Linked DNA regions of Homo sapiens: region 1 is linked to region 2. The links come from fine-mapping of genetic effects on gene expression. A gene starts in region 2. The other region holds a variant in brackets. All regions are shown on one strand. Distances are from middle to middle. Region 1 holds the start of PITPNM3 (PITPNM family member 3). Region 2 holds the start of ELP5 (elongator acetyltransferase complex subunit 5).

Evidence for each region. PIP is the estimated chance that this variant, and not a neighbour inherited with it, causes the effect.
Region 1: its variant is fine-mapped to the expression of ELP5 in hepatocyte-like cells (PhLiPS, PIP 0.95).

Annotation. Positions count from the first base shown.
Region 1 is chr17:6,554,844-6,559,218 of GRCh38, forward strand. PITPNM3 (PITPNM family member 3) reads right to left here and starts at 1,712. Exons shown (of 20, transcript NM_031220.4): 1 at 1,542-1,712. The coding sequence starts at 1,563. RefSeq lists an enhancer at 1-623. The variant GC/G (reference allele first, on the strand shown) is at 1,761.
Region 2 is chr17:7,249,941-7,254,241 of GRCh38, forward strand. It overlaps ELP5 (elongator acetyltransferase complex subunit 5), which reads left to right and starts at 2,275. Exons shown (of 8, transcript NM_203414.3): 1 at 2,275-2,656; 2 at 2,830-2,890; 3 at 2,978-3,058. The coding sequence starts at 2,611. CTDNEP1 (CTD nuclear envelope phosphatase 1) reads right to left here and starts at 1,794. Exons shown (of 8, transcript NM_001143775.2): 1 at 1,255-1,794. The coding sequence starts at 1,356. RefSeq lists enhancers at 1,397-1,984, 1,985-2,573, 2,442-2,661 and silencers at 1,522-1,641, 1,712-1,921, 2,692-2,931.

The DNA of each region.
Region 1 (4,375 bases), 700 kb before region 2:
CTCCCAGGATCACGGTACAGTAAAGAGCTTAGCACTCTGCCTAATACATAGAACAAGCAGCAAATGTTCACTGCCGTTGCGATGACAGTGCCCTGGCAGGTGACCTGTGCTCAAGGCGTCCCAGTGCACACACACACTCACACACACACAGGGTAGGGCAGCAGATGGGACACACGCCCTGCCACAGGCCATTTTAAGGAGTCGGGGTGGGTGAGGACCCAGGCACGGTGGAGGAAAGAGGGAGGCAAGAAGCCTTTTTCAGCTTCCTTGGTGTCATCTCACAGTGCCTCCCTCAGGAGGGGAAAAGGGAGGGGAGTGAGAAGGCTGTTTAGCTGTGTTCCATACTGGCTGTGCCTCACACAACCGGCCCCACCCCGACAGGACTCCTTGGGGACAGAACGGGAGTGCATTCTCAGGCACCTAAATCTTACAGGCTCAGTGCCTGCACAGGGAGACGGGTCCGCAGCCCAGGGTCCCGGGCAGCTTTCGGGCTTGGGGGTGGATTGACACACAGCCCGATGGTATTCACACCCATTCCTTCACTGTCGCGCCCGGTCCTGGGGGACGGCATGGCACCAGCCAACGTCACGGGTTGGGTGTGAGTTCATGGTAGATTCTCACACGCCAGCCTCACAAGAGGCACTGCCGAGACCAGGCTTGCTGCCGCCTACTGTATGGCCGGCCCTGTGGGCACAGCTGTCCTCCACCCGCCTCCCAAGGCACCATCGGGCCCAGAATGTGCCCGATGAGTCACGGGCCTGGGTCTCCCCAGCATGGGCGCAGCAGGGGGGCTGAGTCCGCCTGAGCCCCGGTGCCCAGCTCAGGGTCTGGCACAGAGCAGATGCTAGTGAATGAACGTCGGGCTGGATGAATGAACGAATGACTAATGCCCGCTCCCTCAAACCACAGGCTACACCGTCTGAGCCTGGGGGAGGGCAGAGCCCACGGGACCCCAGAAGAGGCCTCCGCAGCTGAGGCTTTGCGTCCCAGGGTCGATGGGGGAGGGGGCGGGGCGGCCAGCAGCCGGCGCGGCACGGGGCTCCCCTCCTTCCCGAGAAGGAATCTGGGTCTCTGGACTGAGCTGGTGACGGGGGCTGGGGCGGGGGGTTGTGGCGTCCTGGATGGAGAGAGCTGCAGGAGCAGGGGGCGCGTCCCGGTTTGCGTTGGGGTGTGGGACGAAGCGGCGGCCGCGGGACATCCCCTTCGGTGGCGAAGCCCGGGTCTGCCCGGGGCCTCCGCGGGGTGCAGAGGGCTCCCAACGGCGGGACTGGCCCGGGGCGCCGCAGACCTGGCCCTTTCCGGCGGGGCCGTGGAGAAGGGGACGCGGTGTCCCCCGAGGTGACCGGGGGCGCAGGAAGGACGGGGGGCGCGCGGAGCCCCCTCTCCACGCGCGGGAGGTCCAGCCCCGCTACCGCCCCCTACGCCCTCCCGGGACCTCCGCCCACCTGCGCGAGGGGTTCACCTGGGCCGGCGGCCCCTCCTCTAGACGCGCGAGTCCCTCCCCCGGGCCCCGGCCCTGCCCTCCCCGCGCCCGCCCTCACCTGCACGGCCCGCCTTGGCCATGTCCCGGGCGGCGGGCTCCGGCGGCGCTACGCGCGCTCCTCGCGCTTCCCGGGCCCGGCCCCGACCGCCTCCGGCCCCGAACGGACTCCGAGCGCCGCGCCCGCGCCCCCGCCCCGCTCGCCTCGGCTGCCGCCACCGCAGCCGCCGCCGCCTCGCCGCTCCCTCCCGCTCCCTTAAAGGCGCCGAGCGGCGGCCGC[GC/G]CCCCCCCCCACCCCACCCCCCGCGCCGCCGGGGAGGGACTGACGAAGGAAGGCGCCCAACGCCGCCCCCGCGGGCCCGCACCCCCGCCCCGGGCCGTGGCCGCCGCGCTCCAGCCCGCTCCGCTCCGGCCCGCGCGGCCACCGCAGCGCGCGAGGGGCGGCAGCCCAGGGGCTCAGAGACGCGGAGACAGCCCGAGACACTGCGGGCCAGAGACGGGGCCCTGGACTGGGAGAGGGGCGCACAGACTATTAGACAGCGCTGGAGAGAGACGCTCCTAGGGCCAGAACGCCGAGGTGGAGGGAGAGAGAGAGAAATTCAGAGGAGACCAGAGACCCAGAGCCCGGCTCCGGCTCCGGGAGAGACGGACAGAGGGAGCGGAGAGAGGAAGGAGGACAGGGATCCAAGGGAGGCCCCCACGAAGTCAAGAGGAAAGTCGCTCTGGGATCAGAGACAAGAGAGGGACCCCCTCCATCAGCCCCCGCTCCAGGGGTTCTGGATCATTTATGGCGTCTGACCTAACCTCAAAAGAGAAAGGATTCCCGTGATTTTAACCCTCAAGGGATAAGTAAAACACTTGCACATCCACCTGGGGTTCTAGGCTGGAGCAGGCTTTGTGGACCCCAGCGGCCTGGTGGTGAGCAGTACCCGCCTTCCACTTCCTAAATCGGGATGCAGAGATTCTAGTGGACAGGCCTTGTGGTCCGGGGAGATATGGGTTATGACTTCTGTTTAGGGGCAGCAGGGATCCACAGTCCAGCCCCAAAAGAGAGCAGGAGATGGCCAATTGTATTTGGCGGTGCCTGAGAGGTAACAACCCTCCACTGAGAGGGTGCCCTGCCTCCCCCAGGAATTGGTAAGGCTGAAGCCCAGTTACCATCTGTAGAGCCAGGCACCCAACCCACCCTGTCCCACTCCACTTAACAGGGAAAAGGTCAACTGGAGAATTCCATCCATGGTCCAGGCTCCAGGGTCCTGCAAGCTCCTCTATGGAAACAGGGCACACATGGGGTTAGATGGGGGCTCTCAGTCCAGTGCCTTCTCTGGGGCTTTGACTCCATTCACAAGATTCCTGCTAAGCAGTCCTCCAGCTCCTGGTTGGTTACCTCCAAGGACAGGAAGCTCAGTATCTTAAGTGAGAGTTCTTCCTTTTATTAATTTTTTTTTTTTTTTTTTGGCTAGTGCTGGCCTTAAGAATGTTCTTACTCGTTTGAGCTGAAATCTACAACCCGCATGTCCCATCCATGAGTTCTGCTCTGCCTTCCGACACCTCACCCAACAAAACCAGGGCTTCCCAAGGCCTTCTACCCAAACTCCCTAGTATGGATTCACCCAGGGAGAACAACCATCCACGTTTGCCAGAGCTCACCTCCCAGGAAACCCATGAGTCCCAAGAGCTCTGGATCCCAGAGCCAGATGACAGCACCAACTCCAACAGATGTAGAATTTCAGAAGCTCTGGGCTCCTGAATCCAACGCTGTTCACCAGCACCTGCCATTGGTCACCAGCTGGGAGAGCAGGAATGGACCCTGCAGCCTTTCCCCACTATGAGAATGGGACTGGGGATGAGAATAACAAGGACTATTGATTGAACAGGCGGTATTTACCCTCATGTACTCTCTCAGCTACATTGCGTTATCCTCAGCATACACATAACGAAGTGGGGGCTAAGAAAGTTCGGTGCTTGTGGTCATGGAGGATCAATTTCAGGCCCCTGTGCTTTGTCTACTGGGCCTCACTGGCCTCACCCTTCCCTGAGGTGTTTCAGAGGCCTGATAGCCTGGACAATGTCCAGGCTTGGCCACCTGGTCTGTAGGTGTGAGTGGTCACGCAGGAGACAGAACGCTGGCTGCAGAAGAAGCAATGCGCCTGCCACAGAGGGGACACGCCTGGGCCTGAGCTCCTCCCCAGCCCTGGCTCACAGTAGCAGCAGTGACCAGAGGGCATCAAGGGCCCTCCTGCTTCTGGGCACAGCTTCACGTTGTGTTTGTGTGTGTGCCTGGGTATGTGTGCATGGGGTGTATGTGTGTGTGCTTGTGTGTGCTTAGGGATGCATGCATGGGTGTGTGTAGGCACACTCGTACACACAAACACAGGCAAACACCTGCTGACAGATGCTCCCTGGGTGGGCACCCAGACCCCTTCCCCTCCCACCACTTAGTCCTCACAAACCCTAAACTAGTCACCCAGAAGGGCCTGGGTGGAGCGGTTAAGGGGAGGTGCCAAGTTGATGGGAGTTTCAGAACTCATCTCTCCAGACCACTCCACACCCCATTTCTCAGATGGGAAGACAGTAAGCCAGATCTGTCCCCTGAAAACCACGACTCAGAGGCCCAGATCCATGGTTCCCCTCTTTAAACCTTCACCCCAGCCTCTGTCCGCCCCTAAGGCAGCCCCTGAAGGCACTGACTGTTACCAGCTGCCAAGGAAGTTCCAGCCCAGCCTTCTGACAGAGCAAACACATCAAAACTCAAGGCCATTAGATTAACTGGTGGGAGTTAACTTCCTGCGTCAGAAGAATTGTCCTTAATTGAAGAAAGGGATAACTAGCAATTTAGCCACGCTGACCTCTGCTGCCCGGAGGAAAGAGAGGCAGGAGCCAGCCAGGGCCTACGG
Region 2 (4,301 bases):
CACACATATCCCAGCATCTCTGACCCTAAATTTTTCTTGGCTCCTAGCTCTTGTCTCGGGGGAATAGCGCTGCTGCCTACAGCCACAACCATCCTGTACTGTTCGCGCCCTAAATCAGGAAGTGGAAGCAGACTGGTAAAGGACAGAATGAACCCAAGGCCAGACCCATTCTCCCAAATCAGTTAAATCAACCACCACTACCACTGAGGGCTTTCTGGAAATTCTCTGGACCCCAGGTCACCCCAACCTGGGTTTATTCTTTCAAATTGTATTGAGGTATGCTAAGGGGTACAGACCACAGTACAGACCCAGAACCTGTGTCTCCGCTTACTAAATTCTCCCCAGACTCCTTCCGAGGATTCTCCCTGGTGGTGGTGAGACCACAAGAGCACATTCATTTAAAGTGCTGTTAGCTGAAGGACCTCTGACCTTGGAGAAAAGCTAAGGGAGAGGGGACCCAGAGATGCTTGGGTCCATCCGGACAGTTTCCCTCAGAATGCTAGGCTCTCCTGGAGAAGCAAACGTCCTCATTTTCAAGCCCTACAACTGCCCAGCGCTGTCCTCTGACAGGGACACCCAAACTTCAATGGTGGGCACAGCACCCACCTTGAACTCCCTCCCACAATTAAAGAGGCCCATCGTAAAAGCATCTGCTTTAGTCTTCAATAAATCCAGATACCTACACTCACACTATGAAATAAATTTTCACAGCCTTTTTGGAGGAATTCTCTTAATGGGAACCGCAGGCGTTTCTCCTTCACACCCAGGGCTTTCCCAAGTTCCCGTCCTTGTTTGTAACGTATGCCCTCCCACCCACCTCCACCCTTGACACACAAGTCTGTCTCTTCCTTGTTATAGGACCAAACACACACCGAGGTTCCAAATAGGGTCTTTCCCAAGCCCACATCCACAGATCCGGCTGTCATCAAACAGGTGTTCCCCGCCTCTTGGTTTCTTTAGCAACAACTCCAGCTTTCTTAAAGAGCGCCCCACCCACCACCTTAGCCCCCAAGAGTTGCCAAATCCTGTCCCATCTAGCCCCATCAAAACCCCCAAGGGCAAGGTTCTATTACAAGGGTCTCCCACCTCGCCCCGCTTAGGGTGCCCAATTCTCTGGCGAGAAAAGCCCCAGCCAGGATTCCCTTCCTAGGCCCAAACAGAGGCCCGACACTCCGAAAACCCCTGAGCACCACGGACAGATGTCCCCAACACCGCCAGACGTCCCCAACACCGCCAGCGCCCACCCTGGCTCACCGTGCGGATCTGCCTCCGCAGAAGGTAAATGAAGAAGCTCCAGAGCTTGGCGGCGAAGGCCACGAACGTGCGCAGCCCCAGCAGACACTGCGTCCGCATCATCCCGATGACCCCGGCACCGCCGGCCCCGGGGCCCCCGCGGCCCAGCTCCGCCAGCCCCCCGGGGGCAGCCCCCCGCCGCCGGGAGGGGGAACGGGGGCCCCGAGTGGCAGGAGAGGCTGCAGAGAGGGGCACGGAGCGGGCGGCTCAGAAAGCCACCCCTGGCGAGGGTAAAGCCCAGCGGAACGGGGAGCTGGGGGACAGGCGTGGGCAGCCCGCGGGGGCCCACATGGGCTGGGAGTGGCACCGACGGCTTCGGGGAGGTTGCGGGCCGAGACAGGTAGGGCTAGGATGGGGTCCTCCGAGACCTGGAGGGAAGGGGAAGGATAATTGGGGGAGGGGGCAGTGGGGGAGGGGGCTAGGGAAAAGGGAGGAAGGGAAAAGGGAAGGGGAGGGGGGGAAAGCAGAGAGTGGCCCGCTGCGCAGGCGCGCTAGGGGGCTGCTCGCAGGAACGGGGAGGGCGGGGGCAGCGGCGCGCAAAGGGCCGCGGCAGCGGAGAACGGGCCTGCAGAGCGAAGGAGCAGGGAAGGAGGGGGAGGGGGAGCCGGAGGGCGCAGAGCGCTGGGCCGGAGCGGCCTCCCCCTCCCCGAGCTCGGGGGTCCTTTAGCCGCTGGGGACCGGGGCTGCAGCCTCTGCAGCTGGGTTTCCCACTCTGACAGGCGCCATTTTACCGTCCAAAGGACTCCCTCTTCCTGTCTTTCCCCCTCCTCTTCCCCTTTGACACTACTTCCGGTGGTGACGTGTATTCGCTTCACCGGGACTAAGTTCCTCCTGCGCGGTCTATGGCGGGTAGGTATAAGGAAAGCCAAAAGCACTCCAAGCGAGGCTGCAGTATTGCGCACGCGCAGAAGGTGGCCGCGGGGCGGGGCCTGAGGCGAAGCAGGCCCCGCCTCAAACTGCGTGGGCGGGGAGAGTGACGTCACTTGGCCCGCGCTTAGGGCCCTCGCGGGGGGCTTGTGGGTCCTCCTCCCCCTCCCACTGACAACTGCCCCAACTGCTCTTCCCGCCCCGGTCACAGTGAAAATGTAGACGGGGTCGTTGTCCGTACGACTGTGCGCCAGGGCTCGGGGAGGGGCGCCCTCCGCGTGAGCGCCCCCCTGGGAATATTGAACATAATCACCTCTCATTCCAGACTATGTTAGGTCTTAATGGTGGGAGGACGCCCGAGTGCTCGGCCCGTTTCACCCCGAGGAGGAAGGACACTGGGTCATGACGCCATCAGAGGGCGCCAGAGCAGGGACCGGACGCGAGTTGGAGATGTTGGACTCGCTGTTGGCCTTGGGCGGCCTGGTGCTGCTTCGGGGTGAGAGCCAGAGGCACGGTGGCGGGGCGGGGGGTGCGGTTCGGGCCTGGCTGAGGGGACGGAAGTGGGCAGGAAGGGCCAGGGGTCACAGGCTAGGTGTGGAAATCGCGACGGGTTCGCGAAGGCGGTAATCCCAGCGCTCTCATACCCTTTATCCGTCCCTCGCTCTGCAGATTCCGTGGAGTGGGAGGGGCGCAGTCTCTTGAAGGCGCTTGTCAAGAAATCTGCACTGTGGTGAGTATCCCACAGTGTCTCCCCGGCCTACCCTGGATAGGGCACCTGTGCCCACTCTTTGACAATCCCTTCTCATCTCTGCCTTAGTGGGGAGCAAGTGCATATCCTGGGCTGTGAAGTGAGCGAGGAAGAGTTTCGTGAAGGTTTTGACTCTGATATCAACAATCGGTAAGTACCAGTTGGAAGAGATTTGATTAAATTTGAGACCTATAATGCTAAGGAAATTTCTTTACAACAAGCGCAGAACCTGGTATGTAGTAGCAGTTCCTTAAATATTCATTGAAGAATTGGATATGGATCTTTCAGGAGGCAAGAATTAATAAGAGGAGTGATGAGTATTTGGGGAGTCCAAAGCAAAGATCATAGAAGTCGAGAGAGAAATAGCCTGGAAATAGGGAGAACATGTGGGAAGGGTATTGCAGTAATCCGTTAATCCGGCTTCACTCTTTAAGGTACATATGTACCGAGCACCAACTATCAACCAGGTGCTGTGCAAGATACTGGAGACGGCAGTGAGTGAGACCTGTTCCTGACCTAATGAATTTTAGGGAATAATGGTAGGAAGTGATAGAGGCCTGGTTTAAGGCAGTGGCAGTAGAGATGGAAAGTTTAGAACACATGTAAAGGACTTTAGTGGGTAGAATTTCCAGGATTTATTGACTAATATGGGGGAGAAGAAAGTATTGAGATAAGGAAGTTCCTAAACCCAGCGGCATGCCTGATCAGGAGACATTAAGAACCATTAGTAGGATGCTTTCTACTTCCTAGTCCCGGCAACTCAGTGGATGATAATAGTAGTTTACATCTTATCTGTTGAGCCTCCAATTTTGCATCAGCCATTGTTGTGATAGAGGCGGTGGTGTATGTTCAGATGGCATTCCATGGCTGGGCGCGGTGGCTCACGCCTGTAATCCCAGCACTTTGGGAGGCTGAGGCGGGTGGATCACCTGAGGTCTGGAGTTCGAGACCAGCCTGACCAACATGGAGAAACCCCATCTCTACTAAAAATACAAAAAATTACCTGGGCATGGTGGCACATGCCTGTAATTCCAGCTACTCAGGAGGCTGAGGCAGGAGAATCGCTTGAACCCAGGAGGCAGAGGTTGCAGTGAGCGGAGATCACGCCATTGCACTCCAGCCTGGGCAACGAGCGAAACTCTGTCTCAAAAAAAAAAAAAAAAGCGGGCACTCCACAAGAGAAGATAGAAAAGAGATATCTGGGAAAAAAAGTTCTGCTACCTATGCCAGTCTCCCTTTCCTGAGCTGTTTTTTCTGTAGTTGTTACTTCTTGACTTAATTCTTGACTTTCTTTAAGCTGTTCTACAGGCAGGACCAAATCTCACGTCCTCTGCTTTCTCTTTTTTCACCCAGGGTGATAATCTTTAGGTGCCACACACAGGAAATATTTGAT